4 separate regions of the Homo sapiens genome follow, and all the other regions are linked to region 4. Evidence: fine-mapped expression QTL. A gene starts in region 4. Each other region holds a variant in brackets. All regions are shown on one strand. Distances are from middle to middle. Region 1 overlaps FRMD4A (FERM domain containing 4A). Region 2 overlaps FRMD4A (FERM domain containing 4A). Region 3 overlaps FRMD4A (FERM domain containing 4A). Region 4 holds the start of FRMD4A (FERM domain containing 4A).

Evidence for each region. PIP is the estimated chance that this variant, and not a neighbour inherited with it, causes the effect.
Region 1: its variant is the best candidate, but not a certain one, in a credible set for the expression of FRMD4A in whole blood (TOPMed, PIP 0.52).
Region 2: its variant is the best candidate, but not a certain one, in a credible set for the expression of FRMD4A in whole blood (TOPMed, PIP 0.73).
Region 3: its variant is the best candidate, but not a certain one, in a credible set for the expression of FRMD4A in stomach (GTEx, PIP 0.89).

Annotation. Positions count from the first base shown.
Region 1 is chr10:13,724,024-13,730,246 of GRCh38, forward strand. All of the region lies in intron 12 of FRMD4A (FERM domain containing 4A), which reads right to left. It overlaps LOC105376426 (a long non-coding RNA gene), which reads left to right. Exons shown (of 4, transcript XR_001747371.2): 3 at 1,114-1,238; 4 at 3,299-6,223. It also overlaps the pseudogene RNA5SP301. Among named protein-coding and RNA genes, the nearest start is that of PRPF18, 140 kb to the left of the region's middle. RefSeq lists an enhancer at 4,165-5,019. The variant C/T (reference allele first, on the strand shown) is at 3,716.
Region 2 is chr10:14,007,518-14,013,740 of GRCh38, forward strand. All of the region lies in intron 2 of FRMD4A (FERM domain containing 4A), which reads right to left. FRMD4A-AS2 (FRMD4A antisense RNA 2) reads left to right here. Exons shown (of 3, transcript NR_199003.1): 3 at 1-9. Among named protein-coding and RNA genes, the nearest start is that of FRMD4A-AS2, 19 kb to the left of the region's middle. The variant A/G (reference allele first, on the strand shown) is at 2,709.
Region 3 is chr10:13,642,530-13,648,752 of GRCh38, forward strand. FRMD4A (FERM domain containing 4A) reads right to left here. Exons shown (of 25, transcript NM_018027.5): 25 at 1,177-4,506. It also overlaps a transcript of PRPF18 not described here. Among named protein-coding and RNA genes, the nearest start is that of PRPF18, 59 kb to the left of the region's middle. The variant T/C (reference allele first, on the strand shown) is at 2,642.
Region 4 is chr10:14,327,261-14,333,483 of GRCh38, forward strand. FRMD4A (FERM domain containing 4A) reads right to left here and starts at 3,664. Exons shown (of 25, transcript NM_018027.5): 1 at 3,337-3,664; 2 at 2,798-2,923. The coding sequence starts at 2,842.

The sequences.
Region 1 (6,223 bases), 600 kb before region 4:
AGTCATGGGACTGCCCGTGTTTTTATTGAGAGATAAAGGAAGAGCATGTTCAAAGGAACAGTGGGAGATAAAAGAGATTTGTCAGCCGGGCGCGGTGGCTCAGGCCTGTAATCCCAGCACTTTGGGAGGACGAGGCAGGCGGATCACGAGGTCAGGAAATCGAGACCATCCTGGCTAACATGGTGAAACCCTGTCTCTACTAAAAATACAAAACATTAGCTGGGCGTGGTGGCGGGCGCCTGTAGTCCCAGCTACTCGGGAGTCTGAGGCAGGAGAATGGTGTGAACCCGGGAGGCGGACGTTGCAGTGAGCTGAGATAGTGCCACTGCACTCTGGCCTGGGTGAAAGAGCAAGACTCTGTCTCAAAAAAAAAAAGGAGATTTGTCTATTCAGTCCCAGGTGGTCGATGTTCTTATTATCCTAGCAAAGTCTTCTGTCTTCCAGCTAGAGAAACCAGATCTGTTCATAGGTTACTACCGGTTCATGGCTTCTTTTGGAGCGAGCGAGGCTATTGGATGCTCCTCTGCAGTGGTTTGGGATCCAACGATAGCATTTGGTTTTGATTTGCTTCTTCAAATTGCATCCAAGGTCAACGGGGCTCCCTGAGTAATGGGAATCTGCATCTGTAGAGTTATTTAGAAGCCAGCCAGTCTCAGGGCGGCTGCTACGTCATCTGGCTGGGTGTTTATTTGCATGTTATAAATACCAAGTGTTGTGTTTGACCCCTACTGTCCACACAATCAACGTGGCTATTTATATGGCCTTTCTCAGTGCTGGTCCACGTGCCTTTTCAGGGGCAGGGAGAACAGCAGGTCGAGGAGACCAGGCATTGTGTGGGAAGCAGATGAATCCTGGGAGACACATATCCCCAAAGACATATCAGCTGCAGTAGGAAAACCGCTTTTGGTTATTTAATCAGATCTAGCTTGAGCACTGGCTCCACGGGAGTCAAAGACAGACGTGGGGTTACCTACTTAGAAACTGGCATTTTCCCCTCCTACCACTTTCTTCTGGAAAACTGTTGCTTTTCATCCTTTCTTTCATTCATGACTCCCCTCTGGCTTTAAAATGAGCTTGCTTTATTTACCTTGTTTTATTTCTCTTTGTTTCTAGTTTTAAGATTCCTTCAACATCAGGATTCCCGATCATCTCATCAACCGACTTGTTAAGAAAACTGAGGCCCAGGGAAGTGGCTCACAATTGTGTAGAATTGTGAGGTGTCTTGACTGCTGGGCCAGGTATCCGGCAAATAATGGCAGGGGGCAGGGGCAGGCGTGCAGCACCCCAAGGGTATGTCAGGCCTGGAGACTGACTTCAGAGACAACTTGGGGAGATTCTTGGAGCTTGAGTGTACCCCTTCCAGGAGGTGCCTCCAAGCTTGTCACCCTGGGAGAGATTTAGACCTGCCCCTCTTTAGGGGATAATTACATTCCTCCCCTCCTGTGACTTTCCAGATTAATTACTCTCATGCAATAGTTGCTCTCTAAGAATTATTCACCTGGACAGGGCAATGCTTTTTTTTTTTCTGTTCATAGACAGGTCAACCTTCCTCAAAGGTGACAGTCTGACACCAGCATGGGCTTCAACAAGAACACAAGATACAGGCTGGTGCCCTTGGGAGCTTGGCTTACCCAGACCAGTCTCGGGATGGCCTTCCCAGGGCCCTGTGGGAACCGAGGAACCCTGGCTTCCCAGGTCCAGTGACCAACAAAAAAATAACCCTCTTCACAAAGAGACGTTGTTTGCTTTTCGAGGCCATCCCACCTCTTGTTTTCAGTATAAATGACTGTAACAATATTTGCTATGTCAAGGCCAATGCCACTTTTATCCTGGGGAATGAGAAACTCTGTGACAAGTAAACTTATTCAAGATGGAGAAAATTAGACTACATCTATTCTGTGTCTCTTAGTCCCCACTTCACAGATATAAAAAGAGAGGCACAGGGAGGTTAAATAAATTGCTAATCATGACTTTCTAAAATAAACTGGAAGTGAGTTAGTGCCAAGGAAGTGAGTTAGCGCCAAAATTCTTTGGTCAAGAAAATTCTTCTTTGGGGGCCTGGGCAACATGGCAAAACCCTGTCTCTGCAAAAAATACAAAAATTAGCCGAGTGTGTTGCACACGCCCGTGGCTCCAGCTACTAGGGAGGCTGAGGTGGGAGGATTGCTTGAGCCCAGGAGGTCAAGGCTGCAGTGAGCTATGATGGCACCACTGCATTCCAGCCTGGGAGACAGAGTGAGACCTTGTCTCAAAAAAACAAAACAAAAACAAAACAAAACAAAAAAGAAACTTCTGTTTTGGGTCTTGGAGTGGATATGGAGGTCATGAAGGTCGTGAATTTACAAAACATCTCTCTCTTTTTGTTTAGAAGTGTAACTGCTCTAGGAAAGAATTTGACTTTAACTCAGACTAAAATGTCTTCATAACAACAGCAAAACAACGAAGTAGGATCTCATAGAAAGGTCCTCGTTAACTGCCTGTATGCAGAGCAGTGGGCCTTAAGCTCCACTGCCTGTGCTCAAGTCACCTTCAAGGCTTGTGGAATTAGATTGCGGAGTCCCATCCTCAGAGTTTCTGAGCTCGTAAGTCTCAGGCGGGGATCCTTAGTTTGCATTTCTTTCTTTCTTTTTTGAGATGGAGTCTTGCTCTGTTGCCCAGGCTGGAGTGTAGTGGTGTGATCTTGGCTCACTGCAGCCTCAACCTCCTCAAGGCTCCAAAGTAGCTGGGACTACTCCTTTGTATTTTTGTATTTTGTGTGTGTAGAGATGAGGTCTTGTTATGTTGCCTAGGCTGGTCTCCAACTGCTACCATCCTCCTGCCTCAGCCTTCCAAAGTGCTGGGATGACAGGTGTGAGCCACCTAGCCTGGCCGTTAGTTTGCTTTTTTTTCTGAGACAGGGTCCCACGATGTCGCTCTGTCGCCCAGGCTGGAGTGCGATGGCACGACCTCGGCCACTGCAACCTCTGCCTCCCAGGTTTCAGTGATTCTCCTGCCTCAGCCTCCCTAGTAGCTGGGATTACAGGCACATGTCACCACACCCAGCTAATTTTGTATTTTTAGTAGAGACGGGGCTTCGCTATGTTGGCCAGGCTGGTCTCATATTCCTAACCTCAAGTGACCCACCTGCCTCAGCCTCCCAAAGTGCTGGGATTACACATGTGAGCCACCACACCTGGCCAGAGTTTGCATTTCTAACACATTTCCATGTGATGAGGATGCTGCTGGTCCAAGGACCACACTGAGAACCACTGCTGTAGAAGATACCATGCAGCACCGACCAGCCTCTTTCTCCCTGCAGGACTGAAGGACGTACGCCCTCTCCCGGAATCGTCTCAGCTACAGAGAACCACCTTGCCCAAGGTCACCACCCTCTTGCCAAGGGGGTCACTTGGATCTAATGATTGGTTAATGCTGGGGGGAGGGGGTAAGTCTTGGCCCCCAGCCTCAACAGTGATGGCGGTGGCTCCGGGGTCATCCTAGCTTCCGAGTTTCGTCTAGGTTGAGGGCGCCATGTTGGGACTGCATCAGCTTCTCTCTCTGCCTGGTTCTGCTTCCTTTACTTTACCATTTGTTGTTAGTCCAGGGCACACCCCAGTAAACTTCCTGCATGCGAGTTCATCTTAGACTGCTTCCCAGGGAATCGTATGTACAACACTCGGGAGTAGAGAGTCACTGAAACGGCCCTAGCTCTGAGAGACCCCTCCTGACCAGCCAT[C/T]ACCCCTCCCGCTCTTCCTTACTCTGATTTATTGTCTTCGTAGAATTTAACTCTCAGGTCTATGGCCATACTGCCCTGAATGCGCCTGATCTTGTCTGATTTCAGAAGCTAAGCAGGGTCGTGCCCGGTTAGTACTTGGATGGGAGAATTTAGTGCTCGAACACTATTGCTGTAGCTTTCTTTAATAAATAAATTTGACTGCCTTTCCTGCTAGACTGTAAGCTCTGTGCATGCAGGGACATAGTCTCTCTTGTTCTGCAGAGCCAAGAGCAGGGCCTGGTACCTGACAGGCACTCGGACAACACGTACTGAACAAGTGAATGAACTTCCAGGCAGGAAGAGTCACACATCCTCACCAACAACTCCTAGGGTTTCAGAGAACTAGAAAGTCTAGGAATACAGAGGGTGCTTTCAAAAGTGTTGTCTGTAATTGGAAATGCCTTATGTTTGTTTAGTGCTTTAGTTTTATTCATTTTTTTTTAAAGCAGTTCATTCAATATTGATAGCAACCCATATTATCATAAACCCCCATGTGGTGGGCAAGATAGAGGGTTGCTTTGAAGCACTGGGAGAAGAGAAACCGGCCTTGGTGAGTTGAGTCTCTTGCTCAGCCAGGCCCACATGGAAATGCTGGTATCCTGCCTCCTGGACCCATGGTCCTGTCTCTGTATCATCAGCAGAAGCAAACTCAAGTCAGTTGCCACTGAAACTCACCGAGTCTGACTTTCCCCCATGAATACTCATATGGGGGCCATTTTATTGGAGAGGATTTCATATTCACCACCCTGTACGGAATTCTAAGTGCTAGCTCAGTGCTTTCAGGTGATTACCATTCTTTTTTTTTTTTTTTTTGAGATGGAGTCTTGCTGTTGCCCAGGCTGGAGTGCAGTGGCGTGATCTCGGCTCCCTGCAACTTCTGCCTCCTGGGTTCAAGCAATTCTCCTGTCTCAGCCTCTTGAGTGGCTGGGATTACAGGCGTATATCACCACGCCCAGCTAATTTTTGTATTTTTTAGTAGAGACGGGGTTTTATCACGTTGGCCAGGCTGGCCTCGAACTCCTGACCTCAAGTGATCCGCCCGTCTCAGCCTCCCAAAGTGCTGGGATTACAGGTGTGAGCCACCGTGCCCAGCCGATGACCACTCTTTAGAGTTTGGGATTATTCTTCCAAATGGAGATGATTCAGCCATGTCTGATATTGGTGATTTGAGAAGGAGGATGTCTAGGATTGATGCTTTGAGAAGACGATCTCAATTTTCTTAGAATATGATTCCTTTTGTCCTTGGAGAGTTATTTTTAAGTAGCAGATTCTGGGAACTCCCCATGCCCTCCACCTCCTACTCCCAAATTCCGCCCCCGCCCGCCCCCGCGGCCAAGTAGGCCTGGTCTCTAGACGCATGGAAAGCGTTCAGGTCCACTCAGACTGTGCTGCGATCTGAAAGAATGATAACATACGAGAAGGCCCTTTGGTCCTACACTGTGAATGAGTAAGGGGCAGCTGCAAAATGCTAAGAATGCTGAGTGCATTAAGTGAAGTGTTTCTCCCAGGTGTGCACAGGGTGTGGCTTCCAAGGGGAATGTGGATGCTGGAATGAGGGAGGCAGCCACCTAGGCCGGTCAAGTCAGAGGCCCAGCAAGGAGAAAGCGAGCCAAGGCAAACGCCGACAGAAGAGAACGATAAATCCGCGGCGCACTCGGCAGAACGTACACCGCACCGCATAATTTAGCGGGGCAATGCCGCCGGGAGTCCACGCCAAGTTAATGGAATATTTCCTGTAAATATTATTTTCCCTTCCTGTCTCATCATCTCATTTCATTCAAAAATCTTTACTAATCCGGGGGAGTGAAAGTAATGCATCAATTTCCAGAGCCAATGCCCCTGCTTCCGAAATACCCTTAGGAATCACTGGAAGCCACCGCGGCTGCTTAGGGACAGGGGGGCAGGCCGTTTACTCTGGTTCCTTCTCCTAATGCCTCAGAGGGGACCCCATAGTGCTCCTAATTGTGCATCTAAGTGTACATAAAAGCCCCCCTAATTGCACATCAAATAAATAAGTAAATGCTGTCTGCTGAATATGTAACAAGGACTGATGTTGCTATTTCTTCCCAGGGGGGAGATTTCATTAAATCTGGGCTGCATTTCTAAGTGATGATTTACAGATATTGAATATTCTTTACAAGGGAGGCTTTTTTGGAGTTATGTGCTTCACAATATTTGCTCTAATGCTTAAAGCCTCAGATACAGCCTGCTGGAGGTCTCTTTATTCTAACTCTTAGTGTCCTTTTGGAAAGTCTTTTCTGCTTTAATGTGTAATGGCTTCCGATGATCAGATGGCTGGTTTGTCTGCAGGTCTGGGGACTGTGCAACCCCCTGGTCTCCCAATGCCTCAGTTACTGACGCTGCAAACAAGGCAGATTGTCCCAGAGATTAGAGCTCTCAGGCTTTCTCGGGCTTCAATCAATCAAAGGAACGTAAGGACCCCTCCCCTACAGAGAGAGCCGGACGTGA
Region 2 (6,223 bases), 320 kb before region 4:
TAGCATTAAAAACAAATAAACCCCAAATGATAGCAATGTATTTGGGGGGAAAAAAGCATGTAATCAACTGCCTGCATAATTTAAACTACCAAAGCTTTGAAGCTCCTTAACATCACCATCACCTCCCTTTTAGACACTGTCACCCAGTAGAAGAAATTCACAGCCCTGCTGCTCTAATGAGTATGTTTCAGTAAACACAGAAGAAATCATTTTCACAGCCCCCATGCATTTCTCAGCAAGCACTCAAATCTTTCAAACCCATTCCAGGGGGAAGTTTCCATCCCAATCTTTTCCCTCATATTTCATCTCTAAGAGCACCCCTCCCCCATCTGAGATCCACAAGTTACAAAAATTACTGTTTCAGGTTTCTCATCATTATCTGTTAAAAAACTAAAATTACAGATGAGATAGTATTCTACAGTCCCAGGAACTCCAACTGTTCAGGAAACGTGAGTAACAGAAGTAACGCGGTATACAATGAAAACAAACATCTTCCTGTCTTTGGAGCAACTGAGAAGCAAACAACCCGCCACGTAGCTTACCCTTTCAACGCTGCGCCTTCTCAGAGATCCATAAGGAATTTTCAGTAAAAGTCTTTGGGATCTATTCGGAGCCACTGCAGCCTGAACCACCATGGTGTACAGCTGTGTGTGTGTGTGTGTGTGTGTGTGTGTGTGTGTGTGTGTGTGTGTGTTCCCAGCAAAGGGAGAGAAGGAGCCTCCCTCAAAAATAAGTTATGGTCTCCTGGAGGGTTCCCAAATATCAAATAACTGAAAGAGTTTTTCTTTCGACCATCTGAGTCAAGATGTGGTTTGTCAGGAGGAGGGGGGATGGGAAGAAAGAAAACCAGCCCAAGTTCTGCAACTTCAGCGCCCACGAAGCAGCATCTCTAGCTTTCTTCCATCTGTCCCTCTGCACAGCTGGCTCAGCGAGACTGCCGTGTCCCGCTTGTGGGCAAGTGACGCGTCTGGGGAGAGTGATCCAGAAATGTCAACTTTGCTTCTCGTGGCTGCAGATGGTAATCAGGTCAGTTGTCTAATCAAAGCTCTATCAGACGTATTATTCATTCCATCACGTGACTCCCAAGCCCCTCGGCCGTACAGTAGGTCACATGCTCACCTTAAAAAGACTATTTGGAATATCACCATCTGGAGTGGAGATTAATGCAGAATCCTACACTCTGATTTCACTCCCTTCTGAACGGAGGAACAATATCTGAAGACCACAGACAGAACACATCAGGGACCTCTTTGAAATCATAAATTCTATCTATAAAACTGAGCATCAGACATGCGTATCTGTTTACCCTTCCTGCTTTCTAACGCATAAAAATAAACGCACGGGTATTACTCACTGTATATGTGAATACAGTCCACAGAGAGAAAGTATGAGGGAAAGAAGAAGAAACTGTTGCAATCACATGGTTCAGATGAATCAAATCAAATCGAACAGGCTTGTGTTTGGCACCTTCTCATTTAAATGTTTGTGTTATAGAACATTTATTTTTACGTGTGCCAGTAAACAAGAAGAAATTATGTTTCGTTTTACACGGCTGTGTCGAAGCAGATTCATCCATCACGTCTGTCAATTATTTTCTGATCATATTGTGTAATTTCAGATCACACAGCCTTCTTTGATGGATGGCATAAATGGTCTCAAACGTTAACTTTTCTGTAATATTTTCCCCTACCTTCCCCATCTCTACTCCTCCTGAAATCGGCTTATTTCCATAGCAGAAAAAATTACTACAAAGAAAATCAAGTAAGGTGCTTCCAGGATATGGGGTATGTTTGGGTTTTTTTTTTCTTTTTCTTTTTAAAGCATTTCTACATACACTGCTTCTGTCTGTTCTGAGTTTTATGAAAGGGATGGCCATTTCCTTTGTAATCATCCCGTGGTTTTTGGTATTAGCCTTGATACCACTCATACGCTCTGGGCACCAGCTTTGAGACACTGTCTGCAGACCAGTGTGCTTACTTCATTGAAAATGACGGAAATGAAGGTTCTGTTTATTCAAACACACCTAATAGGAAATGGGGGTGGGGTGCGAAGGAAAGAAGCAGAGTTTTGTACTATGAGAAAATGAATCAGAAGAAAGAGGCGAAGGGTGCCACGGCGGCGGCAGCAGCGCACGGGCTGGAAACCTGGGTTCAGCCCTCCAGCGCAGACACACATCACGAGTCAGTTAAAGAAAGCATCAGGTTGATGTGGGAAATTCCAAATATACAACAATTGGGCTTTGTTCGTAATTGGTTCCATGTGTGCAGTAGGAGAGTCAGTGAGAGGGTGAGAGAGACGGGGAGACGGAAACCTCTTAACCACGGCTCACACGGCGTCTTTGGTGAGGTGGTTTAGGTTTACATCTCTTTTTTCTCTCTTTCTTGCTTCTTGCCTGCACTGCCTGGTTTCAGAGCATTGGCGGGGGGTGGGAAAAAATCTGGAACGATACCCGATGATTGAGCCAAAGCAAGAGAAACTCATTTCTTTGTAAAACTGCACTTGACGTTGTAACGGTTTTGAACAAAGGATAGGCACACTTTCAGAACACTTTATCTGTTGAGAGTCACGGCATGTCATTCTTCCAGCTCAGTTTTGGGGTCGGTGGGGGGGACAATGATGAGATGGACTGAGAAGCCACTGTCCTCTTCTCTGACCCAGGCCAGGGCAAAGCCCCGGGGAGCTGAATTTATTTACATTTGACTAAATGC[A/G]ACTTCCTGTTTCCCAGGGGTATTAATGAGTGTTTCACTGTGGAGCTTAGGCTTATGGCATAGTTCAGATCATAAGGGACATTTTGATGAACTAAGTGCAAATAAAACAAAAACACATGCATTTGATTAAGGTTAAAATACATATAGAAGAGAATGTTAATGGTAACAAAAATAACCCTGGGCCAGACTCCCACACATCTGAGTCTCACACATTCCACATCCTTCCCTTGGGAGGCGGGGAGAAGGATCACTTTTCATATTAGCACAAAAGCCTCCTCCCAGATAATGGAGCCCTCCCCAGTCCCCGCGGAGTAGGTGACCCCCTCCTTGGAGTGATTTCAAGGCTCTCAAAGGTTGCTGGTCCAAAAATATCTTTCTGATTGTCTTGCCATGGGTGTCGGAGACTTACATATTCAAAATTAATTGTCGAGTTTAGGTCTTTTTTTTTTTTTTTTTTTTTTTTAAATAGAGACAGGGTCTCACTATATTGCTCAGGGTGGTCTTGAACTCCTGGGCTCAAGCAATCTCCTCGCTTCGGCCCCCCAAAGTGCTAGGATTACAGGCATGAGCCACCATGCCTGGCCAAGTATTTCTTTCCATTGTTAGAATACAAATATGTTTCCCCGGAAGGGATATGCATTCATACTCTCACAGTTATGACCACTTTAGGAGAAGCAAGGGGAATGAATGTTCACTGAGCACCTACCCATTGGCAGGCCATGTGCTGTGAGGTTATCAAAGGCTACTTCCATGGAGGAAATGCGTTTCATTATCCCTGTTTCAGTGGTGAAGAAACTGGTGCTCAGAGGGGCTTAGTAAGTTGGCCAAGGCAGCACAGCTAGAAATGTCAGAGCTAGGATGAAAACCAAAGTCAACTGGTGTGATTTCAGGGCCCAGCTTGCCTGTCCTACAGGACTTTATCAGATTACAGCAGTTTGGAAATCCCAAAGGAAGATACATCCATTGAACCCAACAGGAAAATGGAAAACTCTGTCTTTGAAAAGAAGAGAATGTCAATATAGGAAATTGTTAGATTGAGCAATTTTAGAGTTTCTGGAGCTGCTGCTTTGATGTCACCAGGAGTTGGGCACAGGGGACGGAGGGGCTAAGAACCACAAAGGGGGAGGCAGGGAGGCTGGCCTAAGGGGTCAAGGGAGGAGCCGAGTTATTAGAGCCAGGGGCCAGGTCACCTAGTGGAGTCTAGAACCTTGGAGACCCATCCAGTGGGAGACTCAGCCGCTGCTGAAGCCTTCATCCATGGTCAAGGGGAGGTGAGGAGAAATGCCTGGCCCTTCTTTCCATCTGCCTTCCAATCTCCTGGCAGCATCTTCCAGCCAGTTGAAAGGGAACTGTGGAAATAGCCATATAGGCAGGGCAGGGAAAGGGAGAGCCATAGATCTGAGTATATGTGGCTCTGGGCCAGCCCTGAGGGACCGAGACATTGGACCAAAGGAATGGGAAATGGTGAATTAAGGGTGAACTGAAAAGAACAGCAAGAGAAGGCGGGACACGGTGGCTCATGCCTGTAATCCCAGCACTTTGGGACTCAGAGGTAGGTGGATCACCTGAGGTCAGGAGTTCAAGACCAGCCTGGCCAACATAGTGAAACCCCGTCTCTACTAAGAACACAAACATTAGCTGGGCATGGTGGTGGGCACCTGTCATCCCAGCTACTTGGGAGGCTGAGGCAGGAGGATGGCTTGAACCTGGGAGGTGGAGGTTGTAGCGAGCTGAGATTGCACCACTGCACTCCAGCCTGGGAGGCAGACAGCATGAGACTCTGTCTCAAAGGAAAAAAAAAAAAAAAGAACAGCAAGAGGAAAACCTATGGAACAATATTACATAGAAAGAGCAGGTTGTTGTCAGGATAGTGGATGACACGGTACCCTCAGCATCCAGGAATGGCCTAATGGCTGCTGGATGTGGGGTGGGAGTTGAGGGGGGAAAGATGCCTCAGGGATGGGGGGCAGTCAACAAACTGTGTGCAGGAGAGGGAGATGTAGAAGACACTCTTCAGTTCTAGACTCTCCGAAGCTGCTGCTTTTGATGCCTCAGGGAGCAGCACACTTAAGGCTGGCAAAGCCTTTTGTTTGTTTGCTTTGAACATTTCCTTCCAGTCTCAATGAAAATGTTTGCATTAAAACCCTGGAAGGAAAATGCATAGGAATCCATTGAGCCAGGTTTCAGGAAAGTCAATGGTCTTGACATGCCACAGCAAGATGTATCAAAGCAAATGGGTGTTCTTGGTCACGAACAGCAGGGTGTGAAAGGGGTGGCGGGAATGGGGGGAATGTTCCATTGGAGAGAGAACATTTTGCAGTGTTGGTGATAATGGAGGCAGCAGCAGGAGGGGGAAGAGTCTGCCGAGCCAACGTGTATGCACGGTCACAGGAGCAGACTCATAGATGAAGCCAGTGCCCGCGCGGATGCATGCTGAAAAGCCACGTGAAGGGTAAATGATCTCCTGATGGAATCCTGGGTGCTGGCACGGACATGCAGCCTGGTCATTGCAGCCCAGGGTGATCCTGATGAGCCGGCCTCAACTATTTGTCCAATCTTTTGCCCAGTGCCTGAAATTACCACTAGTGAGGCTGGCCTGTCTGTCCCCTGGAAGTCCACTCACATGTGCATCTGACCTCAGAACTGCCACTTGCTGGCACTAAATAAACTCATTTTCATTGCTTTATTTTGTTCATTTGGCAGAATACTGAAAGGACAGGCCACAGGACAGACAGGTTTCAGCTGGGGACGTGACTGAGGTCACACTGTATAATAGATGCTGTCGTGACACTCCCAGGGCAGAAGGCAGGCTGAGGCCACCATGAGCCCCAGCAGAAGGGGCAAAGGATGGTGAGCTGGAGAAAGAGATGGGAAGGTGACCTAAGGGGCCTTTCTGATTTTGTTCCTTATCATTCTTTCCTTTGCAAAAAAGGCGAAATACCACTTACATGAAGGAAACAGAAACAATCCAAGGCTGACATTGTAAATATCTGTCCTAACCTCCATCTTGAGCCATACTTCCTTGTAACATCTTGCAGGGTATTAAAAGCGGGCTCTTTCTCAGTGTCGTTTGAGGGCTCCAGGCAATAGATGGCAACTATTCCCACCCTCTCCCACACGCCACTCAAGGAGTTAGGCCTCTAAGCAGGACATGCACAAGGGGTGTCTGAGAAGCAGGTTTGAAATCCCTCAATGACCTCACCTCCAGGCTGTAGGAGGAGGGAGAGGGAAACAAAAGAGGGGTGTGGGGCTCAGGGAAAGAGAGGTGCCTGAAATGGCTTATTGGAAGAGAGACATCTCTTGGACCAGGGAATTGCAGAGATAAATCCCCAGAGATCCCCAGCAAAAAACCCACAAGGCACCCTGCAAGGACAAGAGGTGGGCTTAAACACCCATTAGTCCCAGAGAAAACCATGGCCAGCCCAGCCAGGCAGGGTGACTCATGCCTGTAATCCCAGCACTTTGGGAGGCTGAGGCAGGTGGATCCCCTGAGGTCGGGAGTTCAAGACGAGCCT
Region 3 (6,223 bases), 680 kb before region 4:
TTTTTGGCACAATGAAAGGGCAGATAAACAGATTGATAGATGAAGAGGTGAAAAGTAGGAAGCAGTGGGAAAGAAATGGGAAGAGGATCTTCCTATCTACCAGTTGCTTTCATGTGGTAGAGCTTAATGAGAAGATGATACGCTAATTTCCTGAGCTGTGACATATTTACATGTAGAAGACTTACGTGAGGGCCCTTTGTCTTTTTTCAAGTGTAGATGATTTTGAGATGGCCTGGTTGCTTCCCCAAGGAGAGGAGGCTTCAGGCTCTCCCACGGGCAGTTTTTAGGGTGTAGGAAGTAGAGAACACTCTCTTGATGGGCTCACTTCCAGATGTGATTCTCAGTGGATTGTTTTCCTTTTCGGCAGCATCAACTAGCTCTAGTGGCCAAGGCTTCTGTAAGGCTTCCCATCCAGGAGTTTTTCATGCAGGGATGCTATTGGAGGCCAGACTTCCAGTTTTGCTAGGAGGAGATGCCTATTAAGTTAGGGGGCCAGGGATTCGATTGCAGCAGTCACTACTCAAGTCAGTCAGTCACCATTTCATCTGTAAGTCAGGGACTCTTTGTACTTGCAGTCCCCATAGGCGCTTGGCTCTCGTGATGTGATTTAGAGAGTCAGTGGCAGGGTTTGAGCTGCAGTGTGAGCACAGAGGATTAACGGTAGTCACAGAGAGCCTGAGCAGCCTGTGTGAGTGACCCTCTGCATCCTACATGGAATGAGGGACAACATGGAGAGACTAAAGACGATCCCTCAAAGCCTAGCTTCCTTCATTGCTCCTGCCGTGGACTGTCTTGCAGGGACAGTACACATGCTGGCACATATTACACACAGGGAGCCGTTTGCAGTGAATAGTGATGCAAAGGCTGAGATAGTATCCTCATAAAGATTGACCTCTAATCTCAAGTCCTTTTTTGTAGTAGCAGGAATACATAATTTAGACAATATTATCTTGCACAGTTAACAGAAGGAAACTAGAATAAGAGGGAATTCACCTCAGCTGAACAAACCAAGCTTCTCTGTATCATCTAGCAAGCTCATAAAAATGCCATCTATAGATTGACTTTAATAAAGGAGCCCACTGAGGACACAAGCACCTGAATTACAGATTCCCAGTGCACACGCAAGCATTTATCGCTGACAGACAAAGGAACAAAATCTCCAGGAGGCAGCTGGGATCTTTTCATTTTGAAAATGCTTTAATAAGTGTTGACAACACTGTTTTGCAAAATGTAAAGGTACTATACAAATTCTTAATACAAAAAGAATAAATTAAAAGCAGATTTCTTTTTTTAATTCTGCAACTTTGTCTACAACGTACATCTTTTTCATTGATTACAGTTGAACAGAATCCAGTAAAATCATTTTACATGCTCTACAGTCAGTTTCAGGAGCAACCTAATCTTTTTTCCCCCATTATTAAACTAGAGTCCATTTTACACAACTTGTAATAAACTATTGACATTAATGTATATGTAAAACTTTACACCTAGTTAACTAAGCAGTAACTGGTCATCTGATAGCACCTGGATGGGGTTTGCTATATTTAGAACTAAACTAATACTGAATGAAAACAAATTGGAATTTTAACAGTTTCAACACTCACCTGCATATAATAAAATAAAAAATCAACCTGGCTCACAACATAGTCTGATGTATGTGTTTTCACCAGTCTTCTGGCTGAAACAGGCAATTTCTTTTACGCATCCGAAGAATCCAATAGGGGCTTTATATCAGACCAAGGACTTCGTATTTCACCTTATTTTGTTTTAAAGAAATAGGGATAAAGAGTTTGCAAGTGCTTGTGTACAATAACTACATCATTTCCCACCACACTGATCATTAATCATGTCAGTCTCAAAGGACTAACGTTTTATGTACATTTTGTATTAACTGAACTCAGCTAAACAGTAAAACCTGTTTTACTTAATCTCTGTCTTGACTACCAGACTATCATGATGTTTGTTGGAACTGTAATTCCTGCTCTCCATTTCTCTCTGTCCCCCAAGTTGAAAATATAACCCAAATCTTTAGAATTTTTGCCTCTCATTCCTTGCAACTCCAGTGGGCTAGAATCTTGATCCAGTTTTCTCCAGACTAGATTTCAAGCTACTATGCATGATGTAGAACATGTAACCATGTAACCTCATCAGCTACCTTTTCCCTTTTGACTTTTCCTGTTGCACACAGTTCAGTCTGACTATCCATGAATCTTCTTTGGGAGAAAGAAAAATGGCCCAATGTATAATGTTTCTGAATGGGGAAGGGAGAAAAAAAAAAAATCACTGTTCTTTGTAGCTCTAACCATGAAAGTAAAAGCAACAAAAATATCCCCCAGTGAATCCCTAGAATCATTTAATAATGTAACCGGTATCTCTTTATCCTGCAGGTGTACACTTAAAGCGTTCTGGGAATATGAATCCCTTCTGCACCCTGGAATCACCAGTCCAGCCATGCATGGAGCTGGGGAAAGCAGGCCCTGAATTGTCTAGAGAGACTTGGTGGAGGAGGCCACGGCCCGCCTTGTCCCTGCCGGGTCCCGGCCAGGTGTGTGTGTGCCCCAGCTCGACTCTCGGTGGTCTCCAGGCTGCAGCAGAAGGAATACCTTGGTATTTGTTTCATTTTAGTGTCCATCCTTACCCT[T/C]CTGGTCTGGTAGAGCCTATGGTTATTCTTGGATTCCACATACATGAAAAGCGAAGATTTTTCTTTGTTTTTATGCTTAAGCTAACTTCAGTTCTGCTTTCCCACAAAACTACCCCCACCCTGGCTCCTGTCCCTGGCTGTCAATGCCTTTCCAATAGGAAGTCATTAGAGTGAGAAAAAAATTCCACCCCCACCCCATCCCCCCACCACTTGCGCCAAAAGCACAGCATACCACCTCTGCGGAAACCTTTTTGTGCCATCTTGAATAACCCAACTAAAGTCGTGCACTTGTTACTATAAAAGTATTTTTGAGGCCTTTGAAGATTGATGGCTTTCCAGTTGTGTTTGAAGCATAGCTCAAAACATGTAAACGTGCAGCTCCCACACATTAATTTTTTTCTTCTTTCCTCCTCTTTTGGTATCTGCACACAAATGTGGTGCATGACAGTAACTGATGATGTAGACACATGGGCCCTTTGGGAGCTGATATTTTTTTCAACCCTGCTCTGCCTGTTGGCTAGTAGACACACGAGTCAAATCTTTCTACCTAAGGGCATAGTTGGGTTCTTGGAATAAGTGACACATAGGAGAAGTCGGATCTGAGCTCTTTTGTCACACAAGTGCTAACGAACAGAAAATGAGCCACGACAGTTAAACACTGAATGGATCGCAATGTGCTTTTCCCTTGGTTTCCCATAAAAACGAAAATGAAACACCTTGTGCAAAAAAATAGGATACGCTTTTACTGGTTGGTTTAATGAGAGAGAACCACTTTTGGCCATTATCACCTTACGTTACTACAAATCCTGAAAGGAAAGCAGCTTTGAGTCTTGGGCTCGGCTGAACCCCCTGCATGGACCGGGGCTAACAGTACCCTCTACGACTCCCACAGGTCTCTCTTTGTGTCCAGATGGATGGCGACTGTGAGTCAGCAACGCCAGCCAAGACTTCCTCGCCTTTACCGTGGCATTGGGGCAGTTTTTCAGGCTCTCTACGGAGAGAGAAGTGGGCCAGTAAGGGAGAGGGCTAGAGAGAGGACACCAGTTTACATAGGGTTGACTTTCACTTGTGTGTAGTAGCAGTTCAGAATTTAAAAGAAATTTCCTTGCAGAAAGAATGTCTTCCTCTTGGCCCCTCTTAATTTTTTATGTTTTTATTTATTTTTAATCTTTGGCAGCATAGAACTGATTGTGGTCCTCCGATGCATTTCTGGTGTCGAGAACTTCCTTTCTCAACCTCCCCTTCCCCCATAGCCATCCCCACAAGCTGTCCCATCAAGGAATATTTCAGGTGTAAACTGAATATGCCACGAGGCCTCCTCTTCATGAAGTGCTTGGTTGGCCTACGTATGGGTGGCAGGCTGGACACAGCTGAATCGTCTTTCTGGGTCACCCTGTAACTCAAGTCCCCTTTCCCGTTCTCTCCCAACGCTACTTATCCGCAGGAATTGGATGCCGGCTGGCCCCCCTGATGGTTCCTGGCCTAGGGGCTGTCATGGCAGAGGGAAGCCACCAAGGTGCCATTGAGGATTGGTGTCTGGCTCTCTATGGGCAAGAGCGCCAGGGGACACACAGTGGGACCGGAACCTTCCAGAATGTCTCCTCAGTCAGGTTTTCAAGGGGGAGGGAATGCGGAGACAGGAGAAAAAAAGTGCTGAGGGCCAAAGCTGGTGCAGGGTGACGGTGCGTCTGGGTAAGGCAAATGAGAGGCAGTGAGGTGATCTCAGAATGGCGTTGAGGCGGTCAGATTAGGCCGGGCTGGCTCACACGAGGGTCCCGGGCTTGGCTTTTTCCTGCCCGTACCACTGGACATCAGCTAGTTCTGGATAGAGGGAGGAATCCAGGAAACAGCTATCATTGTAGCTCCTGTGGGAGGCCCAAGAAAGGAGATGAGACAGTTAGTTAGTGGAGGAGGATGGGTTCAGCCAGGCCTGCACTGAGAAGGATATGTTCACCTTGACAGGGCCCTGTGCTAATCACGAGTCTTTCCTGTTCGGAGCAGTGAGGCCTGAGACCCTCAACAGTGCTGTGTGTACAGAAGGCCCCCAGAATCCACACAAAGGGGCCGCCTGAAACCTAGAGCATTTGTGAAGGAGGAAAATGGAAGGTAACTTACTCAGTGCGGTGGTTCTTCAGCGTGGCTGCATCCGGGGAGCACCTGGGAACTCCCAGAAATACTCATGCCTGGGCCCAATTGATTTGGGGTGTGTTTGAGCGCTGAGAACTGTCAAAGCTCCCCACCAGGTGATTCTCAGATGCAGCCAAAGCCAGAACCTCTGGGCTTTCCTCAGGGGACTTTTCCCACACGACAGCTGCCCGGGTTGTCCTCCGTGAGACCCCAGGGCTAACAGATGTCACTAGGAAATTTTTATTCTGTCCTGGAAGAACATTCAAAATGTGAGTTTTCCCTATAGTGAAACTGCGGTGGTATTTTGAATTGTGTTTTAAAAGTTTAAAAAAAATCAATGATGACTTTGCTTTATTCTAAATAACATGCATTGTTTTGTGATTATAAAAGTGTGTTCATTTAAAATAGGAAAGTCTATAGAAGAAAATAAAAGGCTTTTTTTTTTTTTTTTAAGTATTTTAGGGAGGTATCACCATTTAGGTTGGGTAGAAGTAATTCTTAAATCTTAAGAAGCAATCATAGATATGTGGAAGCCAATAGTCATTACTAGGGATCATGATTCGGAAAAACAGCCTCTCTTCAATGATCCTGAATGAGCCCTTTGAATTCCTCTCCTGCAACTGATCTCCCCATGGGGAGTGGTGAGGGATGGGTGACAGGAAGGGACCCTAACCCAAAGTAGTTCAGAGCGGGTGAGTTTTAGGAGCATTTCGGTACCAAACACAGCTTCACGATTGAGAATCATCAGTCATCCCCAGCTTTCTATTTCATTTGCTAACCTCTCTAGGAACAACTGGATGTTGTAAATGTTTCTCATCTGGCCTTAAAATCCATGAAAGCTGGAAAATCACAAGGCATCTGTGCATATACTGGTGGATTTTAATGAGAGTCCTGTGTTTGGAGCACCAGAAATAAACCAGCTTCAGAAGCAAAGTAAGAAAAGGCCCTTGATTATGACACTGGCCATGGGTATTACTATATGTAGGTGGTATGTGGATGATTCTGGGACACCTGTCCTGCAAACTTTGTCTCCACCCTAAGCTGACTTTTGACATTGTGCCTGACTGAAAAACTTCTAATGGGAGAGGTGGTTGGGCCTTGCAGGGGTCCTATGTTTTTCTTAGGGGGACAGTCTCTCCCTAACTCCACGTGGTCCTGGTGGTGCTCTCCACCATGGCGCCATCCTCACTCCCGTGGGGGCCAGGGGACAAGGAACCCAACGGGGCCGGGCCAATGAGAGTCCCCCGATCAAAATCCCTGGTTCAAAGGTGGCCACGTGCCTGAGCAGCTTTGAAACCACAAGGATGTCATTTCCTCCTGAGAACTAGGTTAACAGGAGGAGGAAGCAGAGCTAGAGATGGAAGGAGACCCAGCCAGCCCGGGCTCCAGTGACATCGGCTGGTACACGCTTTTGTTTGCTTACGCTTGTTGAACTGAGTTTTTCATATGTAACTA
Region 4 (6,223 bases):
TGCCCTAGCATAAAAGCCAGAGTGGGAACACACTCCACCATTTTCATAGCAATACTGCTCATGTGCAAGGTTGGAAATAGAGACATAACGCTAAATAAAGCCCTCGAATTGGCTATCCTGGAACTTCATCTGTACACTGTTTCTTAGAGATCTTAAATTGTGTTTAACAGAATGGAAGGGAACCTAGACATCAGAGAGCACTCTCAGTTAGCAAATGGCATCACCAAGGCAGAGAAAGGAAGGGACATTCCCAGGATCACTCAATGAGTGGCAAGGCTAGAATGGAGCACAGGGCTGTCCAACCCTCCAGACTCTGTGGCCGCTTCTGTAACCAATTAAACATGCTCTGCCCTGAAGCATTTAGCATCTAAGCTGAATGTAACCTCTGGGTGTCTCCTTATCCAAAAGCAAGGGGTGTGGCCAGATCATCTCCCCACCTACCCCTTAGCCCCGATGACTCCATAGCACAAAATCAGAACTGCAATCCACCAACCTGGTATCAGCCTCCCACAGACTGTGTGTTTATGAGCTCTGGCTCTTGCTGTTATGCCAGGCTACTTTCCTCAGTGAGCAGACACGCGATAAATACTGACAACTGATTGGCTGATGAATGAGCTCATAAATAATAATGTTTACAGCTTCCTTCCTGAACTCACAGCCAAAGCAACTCCGCTAAATGGCCTCTTTTCCTCCTTTCTTTCCTCCTCGGCTTGCTTATAAATTTTAAGATGCATCATGCAAGATGTCAGGGAAGCAATTACTTTGGGGTTTACCCTTAAAAAGGAAAAAAAATAGCACCAAAGTCCATAGGGGAAAATTTCCCTGAACTAAACATGAACCAGAAAATGTATACAGACTTTGATTACACATGGTACTCCAGGGTTCTTTAATCAAACGGTCCATCAGGGTGTCAAGAGCTCTTTCCCCTGGTTTCCAAGAGAGGAGAACACGATCCTTTTTTCCGGGCAGGAGGAGAGTGCCAGGGACAGATCTAAGGGCAGAGGCCACTGACAAATGGAAGGTGAAGTCTGAGATGTAGACACTACCAGGACAGCAGCCATAATATGTGGAAGACCCAGGACCAGAAGAGCCTGTGTGTGTGTGTGGGTGGGGGGGGGGGGTGTATAACAGCAGAAATGGATGCTATTCATTTAATTTGGATACCAAGGATTCATGCTTAGGGGCTTGGAATAAAGCAGATACACATCTTTCTTCTAAGTATAGAAGAAAGGTCCAAGTAGGAGGCTGAGACAAGCGGGTCTAACTCTCCCTAAAGATATTTTTCAAGAAAACTTTTCTCCTCTATATTAACACGATGCAGGATTTATTTCTGTTAGTGTACTAGATAATATAATATACATATGCATGTGTGTGTGTGTGTGTGTGTGTGTGTGTGTGTGCATATGTGTGCCTGTATTTCAGAGCATATAACCCAGGCTCCCAGGTTCCCAGAAGTCTCCTAGACCCCATAGATAATGCATTTTAGTGCCAGCCATCATCACGAATACTCAGTGATGGAATGAAAATTCCTATCCAGTTTATTTGACCACAGGTAGACGATGGAGGATAAAGTATCATCAGACGATAGAATTAGTAAGGGAAAGAAGTCAGGTAATGGGTAATTTCTCTGGAAACTGACAATTTCATTTCTTCTAGTCCTACTCCCCCAGTGAAATGAGAAGTCAGCAGAGGCCCATGAGATAGATTTCAGGCAATTCAACTAAATCTGTGGACCCAGTGGAATTTTGAGCAACGAAGAACCAAGATATCTGTTCCTTTTAACATGACCTGGCTTGCCACCCAGGGGGCAGGCTTCCCACTGACGGCTCTTCCAAGTCACCTCCATAAACTCATCAGGCCTTGCAAAGTTGCATTTCCCCTCCTCATTCCGAAGACACAAATCAATATACACAGAAGCACTTATGCTTGGTTCATAAAATCTCCTGTGTAAATGCTGGAAACATTTCCATGCCAAGCCTGATGCAGGCTACTTCCGACAACAGCCAGTATTACCGTGGTGTGTGGGAACCCTGGGAAAGGAGAGAGATGCAAAACCATGGCAAAAGCCACTGCTGAACCTAGTGTCAAGCCAAAAGCCAATTGGGTTGGAACAAGACAGTGCCCATGTCCTTGTGTGCTTTAATATGGTAAGAGCTAGGGCTTTCTTAATATGGTGAAAATTCCAGAGGGGCATAAGGTGAGTCAGCTGCTCACACACAGATAAATGCCTGGACAAGTCCTGCCAAGGTTGGCCATCAATGGTAGATAGGAAACAAGCTGCTCCCAACTCAGTAGCCCAAGCATCACTGAAGCCACAGTGAACCTCCTCCACCACCTCTACAGGAAAGTATGAGCAGATATATGGGCGCCTAGAAAGAAGACCCCATTCTGTCACCCCATGGGCAACAGATTCCACAGTTGCCCTGAGAAGATATCCAAAAACAAACACAATCAGCTCAATTTAGATGCAAAAGACAAGGGGGAAAGGATGCTGGGAGCTGGAGGAGGCATCCTAGCAATCTATTTCGAGGGGCTCTTAGCACCTGTTTGCAAGCACAGCTCTCAAAATAGCATTCAGCAACAAGTTTCTGAAATGGCAAATCTACAGCTTCTTTTCCCTGCAAGTGCTTTGTCATGCTGATACTCTGACCCAAGAAAGCATTTCCAAAGAGCCTGCGGGATAAAGCGGAGCAATGTTGAACATGTCTGCAGCCACTGCAGCGGCAGCAGCAGCCCACGGTGCAGGGGAGGCTGGAGTGGACGCTGCCCGGGCCCCACCTCCTGTCTGAACACTCACCATCAGCAGGCCGAGAGCTGAGTCGGGCACCAGCTGCACTGCCATGGTCTCCGATTCCCATGCACGAATCCTGCTGCCGAGTCAGTCCTCCTGGGCCCCGGGTGGCTACAGAGCATCCAAAAGCACCTGCAGAAAAAGCAGCCAAAATCCAGACTTAGGGAGCAAAAGGCTCAAGGGGAAGATAGGCCACCTTTCACACAGGGTGGGGAGGAGGTCAGGGAAGACAGGGTGGGAACTGTGCTTAGGGAGGAAAAAAAAAAAAAGAAGAAGGAAAATAGGAAGCTGCAGGTTATTTAAAAGTGAGCCCTCCCTAGCTTCGCAAAGCGGCACAGACAGGGAGACCGCATCAAACACAAACGTGAAAGCTTAGAACACGGAATGTTTAACTGCTACCTTCGCCCTGGCAGCAATTCTTCCTTTAACTGACAATTAAAATAAAACATTCCCTATTGCAGATAAATCAAGCAGCCCGAGCCACCCCCTCTCTCTGCATCTCTCAGCAATTCTGCTGCATAAACATGCTGAATGTCACAACATACCGCTCGCAATCTGGTCAGTGTCTTCTTTGCTGCAGATAGGTGTGTCCCTTTTTGCAAAATCAGATATCTGGGAGTGAGACAGCCGAGTCTGACCATGAGGCACCAGGCAGTCACTGGAGATCAGCAAATGCCCTTACCATCCCCGAGGAGGAAGTCACTTAGGAACTGACCCTTCCACCTTCCCCAGATCTACTTTTCCTCTCCAAGTAGACTGGCCAGCTCAGCTCCCGGTAGGGCTAACATACTTAAGAGGAACATGGAATTGCACTGCCTGTTCTGTGAGCGTTCTGATCTCCCTGGCTGTACCACATGTACGCCGCATACAGACACACTCTACCTCTCTCTCCCTCCCTTCCTCCCGCCCTTCCTCCCTCCCATCCCTTCCCTCCCATCTCTCCACAGGGCTGCCTGTTAGGAATTTTGAAGGAGCCTCCCTAGTTCAGGGAGGCATAGGAGGTGAATTTGTCACAAGGGACACTGCTTAACAGGAAAAGGCAAGTTAGCCTTGAAAATCATATCATGCAGCATTTTCCCCGGAAGATGTCAATGAAGGGAGAAAGAAAAAACCTGCCGAATCTTGTTATATAATGGGTAGCTCAAAGGGCTTTCCAGAGTCAAAGACTTAAGAAAATTAGATATCTTTTCATGAGCACTGTCAAGCTTGTATCTTCTTCTGGAGTCCATGTATTCAACTAAAAATGGTTATTCCTGATACTTCTAGTATGTCCTTTTCTGATTTCTTCCTTTACTCACCTCCTGTAATGGCTCCAAAAAATCCTGAAAATTAACTAGACAGTGTGAAATGTAGAAACATAGAGAACAGTTTTCGAAATAAGAAACTAGGGGGAAGAAATTAATGACCTTTCATGTTCCTGTGCACGAGCATAGCTACTGTTCCTTTATTACTTATACTTTTAAAACTATTGATTTGGGCCAGGTATGGGAGCTCACACCTGCATTCCCAGCACTTCTGGGGGTTGAGGCAGGAAGATAGCTTGAGACCCAAAATTCAGGGTGAGCCTAGGCAACATAGCAAGACTTCATCTCTACAAAAAAAAAAAAAAAAAAGAAAAATAGAAATAAAAGAATTAGCCAAGCATGGTAGTGTGTGCCTAGAGTCTCAGCTACTTGGGAGGCTGAGGTGGGAGGATCAGTTCAGTCCAGGAGTTTAAGGCTGAAGGGAGCTATGACTGCACTCCTGCAATCCAGCCTGGGGGACAGAGCAAGACTCTGTCTCTAAAAAAATTTAAAAATAAAAAGTATTTGCTCATCACAGTGCTTAGCACAGAGTAAGTACTAAAATATATTCAATAAATGAGTGAAGGCTGGGTGCAATGGCTCACGCCTGTAGCCCCAGTACTTTGGGAGGCTGACGTGGGCAGATCACCTATGGTCAAGAGTTCAAGACCAGCCTGGTCAAGAGTTCAAGACCAGCCTGGTCAACATGGCAAAACCCTGTTCTATGAAAAACACAAAAATTAGCCGGGTGCGGTGGGCACCCGTGTTCCTAGATACTTGGGATACTGAGACAGGAGAATCGTTTGAACCTGGGAGGTAGAGGTTGCACTGTGGTGAGATCGCACCACTGCACTCCAGCCTGGGCAACAGAGCAAGGCTCTGTCTCAAAATAAAAAAAAAAAGAAAAGAAAAGAATAAAACAAAATAAAATAAGTGAGTGAAAAATTTTCTCCCATTTTGTTTTTCCTATAGTGGCCCAATGAGCTTGAACCTTGATTCCACAGTGTGTGGATGGAGTCTCATGTTACTGATCCCCGGAACACCAGAGCAACCCTCCTTGCCAGCAGGTGCCTGGAGATTCAAAGCATGACTTGAGTCGCATGCATGTGGCCTTGCACAGAACTGTCAGGACATTCTGACTGTGCTGGTGGATTGCAATACTATTCAAAATAATATGTATAGTCACATTTGAAAAATAATAACAATGATTTAAGGAACAGGTCTATAATAGTGATTTAAGGGACCTTATCCTAACTTTTCAGATGGATTTCTAAATGTATTCAACTGATATTTGCAGAATGCCGACTTTGTACCTCTGCCCTCAAGGAACTTTTTATCTGGTAGAATCATTAATGATACAAGATAATATGTAAGAAATGCAAAAAAAAAAATCCCAAATAGTTTGGATAGCACAGAGTAGGGAGGGCTTACCATTTCTTTTTTTTGTAGCTTTTGCACTGGAACTTCAGGAACAGCAGAACATCTTTTTCAGGACATTTGCTTTCTGATTCTACATGGACTATGTGTTTGGAAAATAACCAAAGCTAAGAAAAAACGTTAATATTGGAGCTATTGCAACTGGTGGATATGGGCAGAGAAAAGACAAACCCTGAGGAGAGACAGGCAGGAGCAGCCTCAGGTATGGGACAGTCTGGGACATCCTTAGGTTGCAGAGGCCGGCCTGAGAGATTTTGTGTCAGCCCTTGACGTTGGCCCCCAGAACACCCGCCTTCCTCTCTCAGCACTTCACTCATGGCTCCTTTGCCTGGAAAGCCTCATCCCCTGTCTGCTTGAATTGCAGCCCAGATTTTCTGGAAAATAGCCTGCAGCAAATCTTCTGCAAGAAGACATCATTGGGAGGTGCAATTTCAGGGTGGCAAGAGTGGGGGTGTGGGGAAGGTGAGGCAGGGATGGAATGAGAGCAGGTACAAGGTGGGGTTGACCAAAGTGGGCATAGGACAGCTACTCAGTCCTGAGGAAGAGCTTCCAGACAGGTATGGAACTTCCAGTTTTTGGCATAACCCATCAAGGAGACGAAGGGAGAGGGAGCTAACAGCCTAGTGCTGTCCATTAGTTGACTCTTTTTGGTCAAATTGATTCCATCAGACATTAACCCTCTTGCGCTTCAGGGTTATGTTACCAACTCCCG